2 linked regions of the Homo sapiens genome follow. The protein of the gene in region 2 binds, or shares a complex with, the protein of the main gene of each other region. Each region holds a gene or a part of one and is shown on either strand. Other genes may lie near its edges.

Region 1 (7,273 bases), about 34 Mb from region 2:
AATCCTTGGAAAGGGAGCAAAAGGGTTTACAAAACAAGACGGTGCAGAGAGTCTCAAGTCTGTCTACTCCACAGCAGCCTGCTCTTTCCTGTTGCTTTTCAAGGAATCAGCAGAGGGAGACCTGGCCAGCAGCTCCTGGGCAGCAAAGTATCCCCAGACTGTGTTCCTGGTGGTTGGCTCAAGCCACTGAAGCGGTGGTTAAGACTCAAGACCAGGACCTGGAGATTCACAAGGACCACTGGGATACTATTTCACTAATAACCCAATAGAAATGGAGTCACTTCCAAGGCACTCTGCTTTGGGGAAGGGCAGAGTGCCATATACCTTCTACTGGGTAACAGGACTGAAGAAGGCACCTCTACAGACTTATGGCTTCACTACTTGTAGTGAAAGCTCATGACTCACAATGCAGTTTATAGTTGCTCATGAATCTTTGCAGGAGTGTTTCCTATAGGCAGCATTTTACAGGGACAAAATATGGGAAGTTTTAAGATTAAAAAAAAAAAAATGACTAAACTAAACCAAAAATCAAACATAACAAAAAACCAGAATATCCTAAGCCCCAAACCTTCAAAATAAAATAAAGTCCTTGCCATTTACAGTTTGGAGAGGGAAAAGGATTTCTACTTTCAACACGCAGGTGAGTTTCTTAATGACAAAAAGTACAATGAGGCCAGCTGCGGAGGAGGCTCATGCCTGTAATCCCAGTGCTTTGGAAGGCCAAGGCAGGAGAATCACTTGAGGCCAGGAGTTTGAGACTGGCATGAGTTTGCAACCAGCCTGGGCAACACAGCAAGACTCATGTCCCCAATCCTGTTTCTGCAAAAAATTAAAAAAAAAAAAAAAAAAATTTAGCCAGACATGGTCCTAGCTACTTGAGTGGATCAAGTGGGAGATCACTTGAGCCCAGAGGTTTGAGGTTGCAGTGAGCTATGACCGCACAAGTACACTCCAGACTGGGCAACAGAACGAGACTCTGTCTCTTAAAAAAAAAAAAAAAGGTGTAATGGTTGAATGGGTGGAGGTAGGGGGAGCCAGTATTTTTCTGCAGCTTTGCATTTGAAGCCACTCAGAACATTCCCAGATGGGCGTATGGCTCAAGGTCTAATGGTTTAGCTGTTTGCTTTCCCTCTTCTTATTAGACACAGAAGTTCTCTTAACCACCTTTTACTCAGCTGCCTTACTTGGAGACTCATAAAACTCACAGCCTTCGTACCCCAGCATAGTGAAGAGCACTCCCCTCATGCTTTAGTCTCTAGCTCATGATCACTTCTTCATTCCCATATGAGTTCTGTGTTCACAAAGGGAGGAGTGGTTAGCTGTGTTTGTCCCCAAATCCATTTATGGTAGCTATATTTACTGTGTAAATATAATGTAATTAAATAGTATGTAAATCAATAAAATGAGTGTGAATACAAACAGCGGTTCTAGCTGACTCCTGGGAAAGACTCAATAAAGGCAAGTCACTAAAAAACTATTGCTAGTGAATAATCATATGGGAGACTACATTTAGAGAAAGAAATCTTAAAAATCTGGAAAGGTTTGGTTTTTAAATGTTCTCACAATACTCTTTGCTCTACTTTAAAAAAGGTCAAATTGGTTTTTGCAAGAACTATGATGGGAAACTCCACTAGCAGAGCCATCCTCAAAGATAAAGACATAGTCCTTTAGCAAATGATTTATGTTAGAGTTTGAAATCAAATGTTTACAGAAGCCATGTCACTTTTATGTTAGCATACCAACTACCCACTTGTCTCAATCATGATGGGTAAAAAGGGATTCTACATTTAGATAGGCAAAAGATACAAATTCAAATCTTACATTCTTATTATTCCATTTCTGGGTCTCTGTGGCTGTATTCCAGCACAACCTCCCTGAAGTGGGGTTCTGAGAACTCCTTATGAGTGAGGGGTATGACCAAAGGTCCAAGTGCCAACCCAAAGAGGGAACCAGCTCACTCTCACTATCATTTTCCTGAGATCACCAACAGTGCAAGCACATTTCCCATACGCAGTATGGAAATGCTTCTAACCTTTGGCTAAATCCCTTTAGATCCTATAACCAAAAGTGTATTTTCAAAGGCAGGGCCCATGATGGGAAGAATATGCAGGATCCAACGGCAATAAAAAGAACACAGACCAGAATGCATGCCCTGTGGGTGTGTCTCTCCATTTTCCACTTTAATCACAGTATAAATAAGAGGAGTTACTACCACATTATATCGCATGGGGAGGGGGAGAAAGAAATACCACTAGGCCGGGTGCAGTGGCTCACGCCTGTAATCCTAGCACTTTGGGAGGCTGAGGCAGGTGGACTGCCTGAGCTTCGGAGTTTGAGACCAGCCTGGGCAACATGGTGAAACCCTGTATCTACTAAAATACAAAAAATCAGCCGGGCATGGTGGCGTGCGCCTGTAGTCCCAGCTACTTGGGAGGCTGAGGCAGGAGAACTGCTTGAACCCGGGAGGCAGAGGTTGCAGTGAGCCGAGATTGCACCAGGGCACTCCAGCCTGGGCGACAGAGTGAGACTCCATCTCCAAAAAAATCAAAAGAAATACCACTTAACAATAGCTAGCTGGAAGTGGTAGAAATATGCATTTTCTATAGGGTATAATGGTTAAAGGCATGAGTTCTGGACCTCTGTTACAGACTATTATTACAACTCCCTCCCTGGTCTCCCTGCTTCTGCTCTTGCTCTCCTACAGTCTAAACCTGACACAGCAGCCAGACCCTACTACCCCTCGGCTGAAAAACTCCTGTGACTCCCCCATCTCAGGAGATAAAACTCTTAAAATGGCCTACAAGACCCTCTAAGAAGTGTCAAGCCTCCGCCCCTACCACCATCCCTCTGACTTCACCTCTGATTACTCTTGTACTTTTCCAGTCCCAGAACATTGTTTCCTTATGTTCTACATACACACCAGGGATACCTCCACCCGTGGGCCTTTGCATTTGCTGTTCTCTCTGCCTAAAATGATCTTGCTCAAACAGTCACATAGGTTACATCCTTACCTCCTTCAAGTCTTTGCTCAAATGTCACTTTCTCATTGAGGCCTTTGCCAATCTATCTAAAACCTCAACCTTTTCCTATTCCCTCCTTAACACTTACTAGCTTATACACAACAGTCTTGCTTATTAATCATATTTATTATGTCTTTTCCACTACAGTGTGAGATGAAGGCAGGAACTGTGTCTTCTTCACTCCTAAATTCTTGGTAGCCAGGACAGTGTCTTGTACATAGCAGACATTCATCAAGTACTTACAGAAATATCAAAGGTACCCTTTTCTCCTCCTGGCCTGTGTATATACCTGGAAGACGCTTTCCTCCTGCCTGACTGCACCATACACACCCAAGACCAAATGGCACTTCCTCCAAGAAGTTCTAGCCTATAGGTGTAGGTTGCCTGAGGTACTTTCATTGTAACTGACCACTCCCTACAGGGTAAGCTTCTTGAGGGCAACATTGAGGCTTTGCCCAGCTCCTTATATATTCACTGAGTGACCGAGGGAATGCCAGGTCCTAACTGGCCACTCATTCAAACAGTCACTGAATAGCTACTCTATGCCAAGACTGATGGGGAGACCTTGGAGAACAACACTAGTGTGGGTCTGGCCTCCTGGAGCCTTCAGTCGGTTGGGGAAAGAGCAGATGTTTAACTACACGGATCCTGACTATGATGGGGGCTAAGAAAATAGATGGGTGCATTGTTGCAGAATTAGAAGCATGCATGTATGCATCCAAAGTGTTACTTAAGCTGTGCTATAAAGAAAAGAGCCTGTCATGCAGTGGGGAGTGGGGGCAGTGTGGTGGCACCTAAGCAAAGGGGCAGAGACCTCCATGTGGGAAAAGGCTTGGAGCATTCGAGGAATGAATGCAGGCCAAGGTGGCTTGAGCTCCTGGGAGAGGAAGAGCAAATGTAACAGAAAGAGACAGTAGCATCTAAGAACTGGTTATTTCTACCTCCCCGACTTTCTGCACTGCTAGAATACACCTGGTCAAAATCAAAGGGGTCCAGGGGAGGGAATGCAGAGACTTGGTTAAGCTTTTTAGCAGGAAAAGAAAACAAAAAAACAGAAGAAAAAATAGAAGTAAAAATAAACAAATGTCACCATGAGCACCAAAGGGAGAACTGAATGCTATGTGATTAAGTTATTCATAACCTTGGCTTCTTCCATGGGAAACAGCAGGTGACAATATTTTTAGAGAAAATTCCAAGGCAGACAAATGATTTCCAGTTTATGGATACAATAAACCCCTCAGTAATTCATAAAAATCAGTTTAAGCCTAAAAATGTTCTAGTTAAAACATCTATGAGTAAATAGGTGAATTTATGGTATGTAAATTATATTCAATAAAGCTGTTACCAAGAAAAAAAAAGGTCATGGACCCCACTGAAAGGAACCAGAGCTCTTTGAAAGATGGCTGATAATTGGACCAGAGTAGTGAAACCGAGAAATGGATGAAGGAATGGTGGGAGCCTGTCAAAAAGGTACTGGAGCCAGCTTAAAGGGCTCCTACTGGCCAAATTTAGGATGATATTAGCATCAAAAAGAATAATGGGTATCATTGATCTTAAGGCCCTGACAAAAAATTTCAGCCCACAGTACAGTCAAAGCAAATAGAGGGGGAAAAAGTCACTTGCCCCCACTGGGAATGGCAATACCCCATCAGTTAACATTCATTTTTCATTTTAAAAATTGGTAATTAAAGGCTGGGCACGGTGGCTCATGCCTGTACTACCAGCACTTTGGGAGGCTAAGGAGGGTGGATCACTTGAGGCCAGGAGTTTGAGACTAGCCTGGGAAACCTGGCGAAACCCGTCTCTACAAAAAATACAAAAATTAGGACAGGTGGCATGCACCTGTATGCCCAACTATTCAGAAGGCCGGATGGGAGGCCGGGATGGGAGTCTGGGAGGTCGAGGCTACAGTGAGCCATGATCAAGCCACTGCACTCCAGCCTGAGTGACAGAGACACTGTCTCAAAAAATAAAAATAAAATTTGGTATTTAAAGGTAAAGAATTACTTTACCTTATCTTATAGAAGGATAACAGCTAATAAATTTAGAAAGAATGAAGGAATTTTAAAAATCAACACTTTGTGAATGCCAGTGACTTCTTCAGGGGAGAATGATCAGATGGTGTAAACACCACTAGGTGAAAGGCTGATGAGCAAGAGACCATCTATGGCTACCTAAGCACTCCACAGATCACTGCTAAATGCAAAGGGAAAAATGTACCTTTACAGAAAAGATCAAATTTAGCATCACAACTAGTGATGTTTCCCATGTGTGCTGAGGATGAAGTACTCACACTAAAATGTTTAAACGGAATCTATTCAGACACTTAAAAGATTAAACATCCGGTTCAGAAAATCAAGGCAGGGAACAAGTTAAACAATACCATGAGAAAACAGTAAGACAGATGTGGAGTATTCTATAACTAGCCTGCTCTCTTTGAAGAAATCAGAGTTATTAAGAAAAAAACAGCGTAAGGACTCTTCTAGACTGAGATTACAGACATAACAACTGCGATGAGTGAGGCTCAATGGAACTGTGGTTTTAAAAAAGAGCAACACTTTGGAGACAACTGGGTAGTCTCGATAGGCATTTGCTTCACAGCAGGCATCGTTACTCCCATTTTATAGACAGCATGTGGAAGCTGGGAACTGTGGGACAATTTGTTCAAGCTCTCATAGCCCGTTGTATGGCAGGGTCAAGATCAGAACACAGCGAAGAACCCACATGCTCTTTGGGGATCACTGTCCACCTGGCACCACTTCTGCCCACTGCCTGAGCTGGCACTCCACACACCTGGGATACAACCAGTGTCCTGTTTCTGCCTTTGCCCCCAAAAGCCCATTGTCCACACAGTAGCCAGAAGGAGCGTGGGTTGGGGGGGCGGGGGCGGGCATTAAAAGCCAAGCCAGCCAGTGGCTCTCACCTGAGTTAGAAAAAGGCAACGTTTTTATAAAAACCAACGAGGCTCCACCATCCCCTCATCTCCTGCCACATACCCTTTCACACAATCCACTTCCTGTTCCTCTAACGCACCGGTCTTCTTACTGTTCCTCTAATGCACCGAGCAGGCTCCAGCCTCAGGGTCCTGCACTAGCTCTTCCCTCTGCCTGGATACTCTAGACAGCCCTGTAGCTCCCTCTCCAATGTCCTTTGAGTGAATGTTAAAATGCCATTTTTTTCAGAGGCCTTTTCCAATCACCCTCACGAAAAGCAGCCAACTTCCCTTCCCATCCCTCACTCTGCTTTAATCTCTCCAGCGCTTCTTACTACCTGATGTGCTCCATGGCCATACTATCAGTCTCCTCATCATAAGCAAAGCCCCACCAGATCAGGTCTTTGTCTATTTAGTTCACTAGCCATGTCCCTAGAGCCTGGCTTGCTGCTGTTGCTCAAAAAACATCTGCTGTGGGAAGGCAAAGGGACTTGTTGCAGCCCTGCCCAACAGTTACAGCCTGTGTGCCTCAAGACAGCACACGTCAGGGGAAGCCATCTGAGGCATCTCTGCTGAGGGTGAGCCTCCCTCCAGACATCAGATCACCAACCAAGAGATACCTAGCAAGGGAGTGGATGGAATAAAGCAGAGGAGAGGGGGGAACAAAGCTAAGGAAAAGCAAGGGGCTTGAGGGAGGCTGCAGCAAAGTGGCCACACCTGTCCCGGGAGCCTCAGCAGCCTTCCCAGTCAACCTCCTGAGGACATGAGGTTGAGGGGCTCCTGGTTTTTCTCAGTCAGAAACCGGGAGGCTATACCTGACTTAAACCTGATCCCAAGGACAAAATGTCCAGTTAGTTACTTTTTAAGAAGAAAAAAGAAAACATTCCTTCAATCCCCTTGGGGCTGCTCTCACAATGGCAGGCACACGGCCTGCTGAAGTAAGTAAAAGAGGTCTAAACCTAGCTGTGTGCCAGGACAAGCTAACAGTAAAGATGACGAAGCTACTGGAGGCAGCAGGGAGGCGCCATGAGAATTCCCTGGCTCCTAAAGGCACTTACTTGGCAGCTTACCTTTCCACCACCTCCCTCCCACCTCAATGCCTGTCATGCTCCTAGGAGATGCTTAGCTGGTGATAGTGAACTTTGTATTTTCCCTCTGGTACCACAGAGGTAGTGCAGGCATTCCTTTGAGGCCTTGCTCATGCTGTGCTCTGCCAGAAGGTCACGGAAGTCACCAGAGGGACCCTTGAGAGTGACATCAAGGTGACTGACAGCCATTAGTGGCATTTAAAGCATCCATGTGGTAAAGGTCAGTCTGTGCT
Region 2 (7,273 bases):
TGGCTCAGTGGTTTACAGCTTAGAAGTACACTGACACTCATTATCTTATTTAGATGTAATCCAATTTGTTAGTTTGCCAGCTACTGCTCTTTTCCCTTTCTCAGGCACATTGAAATTTACTTTCCCTTTGGGGGCTCTGCTAGTTTATTCCTAGCAGATCTGATCTGGCAGTGTGTTTGTAAAAGGATGCTGAACTGTGTCTTGAGGAAGCTCAGAATGAAATCTGAATTTCAGAAAGATTCCTGAGATAATTTTTCTCTGTCTCTTCTCTTTTATTCTTGTTTTAATAAATTTTAGTTTTATGAGGATTGTTTTGGTTTTAAAAAACTTTAAATCATTTTTTAAAACTATTTTTTACAACAATTTTAGGGTTACAGAAAAATTGCATAGTACAGAGAGTTCCTGTATACCTTGCACCCAGTCTCCCCTTTTAGTATGGTATATTTGCTATAATGCAAATCTTTTTTTTTTTTTTTTTTTTTTTTTTTTGAGATGGAGCCTTGCTCTTGTCGCCCAGGCTGGACAGTGTTGGCCAGGCTGGTCTCGAACTCCTGACCTCAAGTGATCCGCCTGCCTCAGCCTCCCAAAGTGCTGGGATTACAGGTGTGAGCCACTGTGCCTGGCCATGCAAATCATTTTTTGAGATAAGTGGGGCATATAAAAATATAAACAAAATGAAGTTGCTTTATCTCTACAAGCCTCAGTTTCCTTATCTGCAAGATGAGGGGGGTGGACTAAATTTCTAAATAGCTTTAAAATTTTTTAATTATCTGCTAAAGTAAAATAATTATATAATTGTAATATAATTTTCTTTATTTGCTTAAGTATTACTAATACCACCTTGCCAAATCATGTTTGCAAGTTACTGACAGCCATATCCTAAAAGAAAACTTAATGAGAATTCATGGAACTATGTGTGGCAGGACTGCTTATTAGAGATATTAGGTTGAATGATGTGAAATTGCCATTTTTGTAGATAAAAAGTAATGAGTGAGGCTGGGCTTGGTGGCTCACACCTATAATGCCATTGCTTTGGGAGGCTTGGACCAGGGGGTGGCTGTCTGAAACCAGGAGTTCGAGACAAGCTTAGGCAACATGGCAAAACCTTGTCTCTACCAAAGAAAAAAAAAAAAAGCCTCGGTGGCACACATCTTCAGCTCCTCTGAAGGGTGAGGCTGGAGGATCCCTTCAGCCCAGGAATTTGAGGCTGCGGTGAGCTATGATTGCACCACTGTACTCCAGCCTGGGTGACAGAGCTAGATCCTTTCTCTAAAAATAATAATAATAATAGGATAATATTAGCAATTTCATATGGTTCAACCTAATGTTTTGGGATAGGGATTCAACAAAGTGTGAGGGGGCCTTTGAGACCTCATAAACTCCCACTGCATGCAAAAGCCCGGCTCAGCCCTCACCATACTAGGAGAGAAAAGGCTCCTCAGTTCCCTTGGAGTAACTTGGATCTACATTATTGTAGGTAGAGTTGTTGGCAGAAATCCTGGGATAAGAGAATAGTTTCCTGGAAGATCTGTGCCTCCAACCAGCAGAGAGGGATTGAGCTTCATTGAACTCAACAGAGCCAACATTTCATAGCACCATGGTGAGTTGGTCACACAGCCTTGGCAAAAAGGCTGAAAAGGAGGGTGTAATAGTATGGGGAAAGGTTGTATTCCCCTGGTTCGTAGGCTAGGAAGAGGCCTGGAGTACTGGTGCCACCAAACCTTTATTGGTGCCATTCTATTCTCCCTACTTTATGCACTTTCCTTACTGCCTAGTACAGGCTCTGCAAACTCAAGTATCTTCGGTTGTTCAGGAGGTAATGTAAATTAGTAAGCCGAGTTTTCCTCTTTAATGCTACTATAACAGAAACAATAGCACAGTTGCAATGATAAATGACAACTGAAATATGCTATCATTGTGAGGGAGAGAATCGGTGTGTGCATAGGGGAGGCCATGATGAACTGGAGAGCACATGCCCTGTCTAAAGGGGGCAGGCACTATACAACTGTGCAGAGCACACGCCCTGTCTAAAGGAGACAGGCGCTGTTCAACTGCACGGAGCGCGTGCCCTGTCTAAACGGGCAGGCACTATTCAACTGTGCAGCTGGTTGTTGCCTTATTGAAATATGGGTCAAGCATCACTGGGTATTCTGATTTTCCAAAGGAGCCAGAAATATGGATTTTATGTACATTCTCCCAATGATAAATGTTGGCACCTAATTTGAATTCTTAAAAACTATTATGTGGGCCACACAATGGCTGAAAAGAGCTAGCAGGGCACTGATTTGTCATCTCTGGCTTATGGCTTAGCTCTGCCAGGAGTGAGGCTCACATGCATTTCTTCACTGGACATTGTTGACAAGTTACAATTAAAATGAATTAGACAGCTCCTGCCTTTGAGGTACTCATGGATTAGCAGAGAAAATAGACAAGTAATGATGATAAGATGTAGAGTAGACATCAGAACATATGTATTCTCTCTGTGTATATAGCTATAAAAGTGACTAACTCTTCCTGGGTTCATCTGGGAGGACATGATAGGACGTGGCATTTGAGCCAGGATGTGGGAAATCAATAGTTTGGTGCATTAAAGGGATTTGGGGCCCTTGAAATTTCTACTGTATGTGCAAATGTTAGGTTTGCATTCGCTGTATATACCATTTTGTTGATAGGTAGTTGAAAATACGGATATTCCTTAGCCCTGCTGGTGAGAGTCTTAGGGTTAATAAAATGAGAGAACTCTTCCTCTGGCCCAGGTTATGGGATAATTGTGTGTTTTAGAGGCCTAAGTAACTCAGAGGTCATGATACCCTCATTTCTGGATGAGGGAAGTAGCACATCTGAGGTCACAGAGCCCATTGGAGGCAGAGCTTGGACTAACACCCAGAACTCTTTACCACCATGCCTTCCCCTGTCCTGGGTATCTCTGATGAAGGTCACCGTTAGGCTGGCCGCCTCTGCCTGTGGTGGCCCATTGCCCTGTTTTGGCCCAGCTCCTGGTGGGTGAGGGGGTTTGGCCATCCTGCTGCCACTGGTTCCTTCTCTCTTTTGGATCCTTTGCCTGAAATGCCTGCTACCCCTTTTCTTTGTCAGATAGACTACTTGTGTTCAAATCTCTCTCAACCATATGCCAGCTGTGTGGCCTGGCACAAGTTTTTTAACCTTTCTAAGCCCCAGTTTCCTCATCTATATATAAAGAGTTATAATAGTACGTTTGGTGAAGTGTAATGAGAAGGCATTGGAAGGTTTCAAGATTTTTGTAAAAACAAAATGACGTAATGCATGTAAAGCACTTAAAGCAACAGCCCTCCAGAAGCACTCAGCAAGTGTTAACAATGATGATGATGATTCACACAGTTCACAGGCTCCCAGGCTGGGTTCTCTTCCTTTGTTTTCTCATATTATCTTATTATTTCACATGCTACATTGTATGTATTGTAATAGTTTGTGTCTATTTCCCCTGCTAGACTAAGAACACCTTCAGCGATTCATTCAACAAATGTTTCTGAACCACTGTGCCAGGAACTAAGGATGCAGTGATAAACCAGGAGCTCTTGGTTTAGTGCAGAGTTCCAAAAGTCATGCCAGGAGACACTAGTCCTGTGAGCTTGTCTCATGGTCAGTTAAATTTGGGGAATGATGCTCATCATAGCGCCCTTCAGAGATGAGGGTCCCTTTTAGTATTTTAAAGGTTCTGAGGAGTCTTGTGTGTAGTAAAAGAACAGTCCTTTCCATTTGACTATGTGCTTTGGTCCCCAGTTCAAGAGGAGGTTGAAGTGGCATGGCAATGGTTAGAGACCCTGCTGGGCGTGAACACCCTCTGGCTACCTAGGGACCTGTGGGCCTACCACCTGGTGCCCTCATGGAGACAAGAAGCCCTGGGTTGAACAACATGAAGCCCCAGTCACTGCAGCTGGTACTGGAAGAGCAGGTGCTGGCACTACAGCAGCAGATGGCAGAGAATCAGGCAGCCTCCTGGCGGAAGCTGAAGAACTCCCAGGAGGCCCAGCAGAGACAAGCAACCCTTGTGAGGAAGCTGCAGGCCAAGGTGAGGCAGCTGCCCTTTTGGGGAGGGGAAAGAGAACAACCCCCAGAGCTAGGTGCTGAGGTGAGATAAGGGTTGCAGGAGGCAGAGTCTTGTGGTGGGAGTGGCCTACATCTAGCATGGTGAGATAAGACCCAGACCTTCTAGCTTTCATGTACAGCTTCTCTTTTGATGCTCACAACTGCTCCATGAGGTACGTATTATATCCTTTTAATTTAATTTTATTTTTGAGATAGGGTTTTGCTCTGTTGCCCAGGCTAGAGTGCAGTGGTATGATCACAGATCGCTGCAGCCTCAACCTCCTGGGCTCAGGCAGTCCTCCTGCCTCAGCCTCTGGAGTATCTGGGACCACAGGTGTACACCACCACTTTTGGCTAATATATCTCTTTAAAGATGAAATTCACAAGGGTTAAGTTAATTATCCAGGTTTCTTCAGCTAGTCTAGAGCCAAAGCCCATGATCTTGCCTCTGTGATATAAAAGGCATATAGAAAGTATTTATTTATTTATTTATTTATTTTTGAGACAGAGTCTCGCTCATATAGAAAGTATTATTTAAATGCCCAAATAAGGCCAGGCACGGTGGCCCATGCCTGTAATCCCAGAATTTTGGGAGGCCGAGGCAGGTGTATCACCTGAGGTCAGGAGTTTGAGACCAGCCTGGCCAACATGGCAAAACCCTGTCTCTACTAAAAATACAAAAATTAGCTGAGTGTGGTGGCGCATGCCTGTAATCCCAGCTACTCGGGAGGCTGAGTTAGAAGAATCACTTCAATCTGGGAAGCGGAGGTTGCAGTGAGCCAAGATTGTGCCACTGCACTCCAGCCTGGGACACAGAGCGAGACTCCATCTCAAAAAAGAAAAAAATGCCCAAATAGAAACTATAAGATGTTATGGCCTTACCTTACTGTCACCACCCATTTCCCCTGTTCATAGCAAGTTTGCCTAAGATCCTCAGGGGCCTTTGCTTTGGGCTGTTTGTGCCAGCTGTGTTCATTGCCCAGGGCCTGTTCTTTTTGCTGCAGGTGCTGCAGTACCGAAGCTGGTGCCAAGAGCTGGAGAAGCGGCTAGAAGCCACTGGAGTGAGTGAGGCTGAGCTCTCTGCACCCCCTGGGTCCTCAGTGAATATACTTGTTAGGTTTCATTTGTTGACTGAGGGAGGTTGGAGTGTACAAGTGAGGTGTTTGGTGGAAGGCTCTCTTTCTCAGCCTCTGAGAGGTTTATCACACTGATATCTTCATTGGACCTAGCTGGCCTGTCAGATTCCAACCCTTGGTTTTCAAAGGACGAAATGTAAATTAGATTGGAAGGAGTGTGGGATTAGCAGGAAGAAGTGCATGTTTCCTCCAGCAGGTGTCAGTGTTTCTTTTAGAAAGATGCAGGCCTTTGCGAGCCTACAGCATGTCTGCAGCAAAGGGATGTCTGTGCTATTAGAACTGGCTTTGAAAAACCCATTTATTTGCCTTTGTTCCAGCTGCCTCTCAGTACCTCCTCACATTTTCCTCAGAAAAGTTCTCTCAGAGGAAGGAAAGAACCAAAACTTATTGAGCACCCTCAATGCAGTCCAGGCAGCATGAGGCACTGTCATATACAGATGGTCCTCCCCAACTTAGGATGGTTGCAAGTTTTCAACTTTATGATGATGTGAAAGCTATATGCATTCAGTATGTTCCTTGGGTTATGATGGGGTTACAGCTGGATAAACCCATTGTTTGGGGTTGTTTTGCTTGCTTGTTTGGTTGGTTTTTGTTTGTTTGGTTGGTTGGTTGTTTTGAGACAGGGTCCTACTTACTCTGTCGCCCAGGCTGGAGTGGACTGGTGCAGTCATGAGTCACTGCAGCCTCAGCCTCCTGGGCTTAAGCGATCATCCCACCTCAGCCTCCCAAAAAGTAGCTGGGACTACAGATACATGCCTCAACATCTGGCTAATTTTCTTTATTTTCTGTAGACACAGGGTCTCTCTATGTTGCCCAGGCTGGTCTCAAATTCTTAGACTCAAGCAATCCTCCCACTGCTGGGATTACAAGTGTGAGCCACTGCATCTGGCCCGAACTCACTGTTAAGTTGAAAATATCATAAGTTGAAAATGTCAGCCAGGCGCAGTGGCTCATGCCTGTAATCCCAGCACTTTGGGAGGTCATGGTGGGTGGGTCACAAGGTCAGGGGTTCAAGACCAACCTGGCCAGCATGGTGAAACCCCATCTCTACTAAAAATACAAAAAATTAGCCGGGCATGATGGTGCGTGCCTGTAATCCCAGCTACTCGGGAGGCTGAGGCAGGAGAATCACTTGAACCCAGGAGGCAGAGGTTGCAGTGAGCCGAGATCATGCCACTGCACTCCAGCCTGGGCAACAGAACTAGACTGTCTCAAAAAGAAAAGAAAAAAAGAAAACGTCGTAAGTTGAAAACACACCTTTAACTTATGTTCAACTTATGATGGATTTATGGGATGAAATTCCAGCATAAGTCAAGGAGCATCTATAATTGTGTCTCTTAACCTGCACAGCAACTTTCTGAAGGGAACGATATACCGCTTTCATTTTGTAGCTGGAGACACTGTAGCTCCAAGAAGTTAAGTGACTTCACAGGCTGGGTGTGGTGGCTCATGCCTGTAACCCCAGCACTTTGGGAGGCTGAGGTGGGTGGATCACTTGAGGCCAGGAATTCAAGAACAGCCTGGCCAACATGGCGAAACCCCATCTCTACTAAAACTACAAAAATTATCCAGGTGTGGTGGCAGGTGCCTATAATCCCAACTACTTGGGAGGCTAAGGCAGGAGAATCACTTGAACCTGGGAGGCGGTGGTTGCAGTGAGCTGAGATTGTGCCATTGCACTCCAGCCTGGGCGACAGAGCGAGACTCTGTCTCCAAAAAAAAAAAAAAAAAAAATGAAAGAAGTTAAGTCACTTCCCAAGGTCAAACCGTTAGTGTAGTGGAAGTTAAGGCCATTAGTGAAAGATACATCACTTCTTAAGTTGAAGATTCTATTTACTACTGAAGGCCGTCTTTCAGGAGAGGTCATCAGTTTACTTTTGGAGTGAGGGATGCAGTGATTGAGAATAGAAGCATATTGCTAACAAAGGGGAGAAAGAATAAAAAGAAAGTGGACTGCCATGGAAGGGAGCCTTAGGGAACTGGTCTGAGTGATGTTCTCTTTGGAGGTAAGTAAGGCTTGTCTCTGTCTGGCGCAGGGACCAATCCCCCAGAGGTGGGAAAATGTGGAGGAG

Evidence for each region.
Region 1: the proteins of CEP250 (region 2) and FKBP1A are in contact, whole or in part, in a crystal structure (PDB 6OQA), measured with the Homo sapiens proteins. Residues at the interface, in NP_009117.2 of Homo sapiens: Gln2191, Met2195, Gln2198, Val2201, Leu2202, Asp2205, Ser2206, Gln2208, Gln2209, Gln2212; in NP_000792.1 of Homo sapiens: Gly20, Thr22, Asp38, Arg43, Lys45, Phe47, Lys48, Phe49, Met50, Lys53, Glu55.

What each region holds. Positions count from the first base shown.
Region 1 is NC_000020.11:1,382,854-1,390,126, forward strand, and holds part of FKBP1A (peptidyl-prolyl cis-trans isomerase FKBP1A), read right to left. Parts: intron 1-7,273. UniProt on the Homo sapiens protein: Keeps in an inactive conformation TGFBR1, the TGF-beta type I serine/threonine kinase receptor, preventing TGF-beta receptor activation in absence of ligand.
Region 2 is NC_000020.11:35,458,506-35,465,778, forward strand, and holds part of CEP250 (centrosome-associated protein CEP250), read left to right. Parts: intron 1-1,477; 5' UTR 1,478-1,600; intron 1,601-3,759; 5' UTR 3,760-3,862; coding exon 3,863-4,048; intron 4,049-5,069; coding exon 5,070-5,126; intron 5,127-7,237; coding exon 7,238-7,273. UniProt on the Homo sapiens protein: Plays an important role in centrosome cohesion during interphase. Recruits CCDC102B to the proximal ends of centrioles. Maintains centrosome cohesion by forming intercentriolar linkages.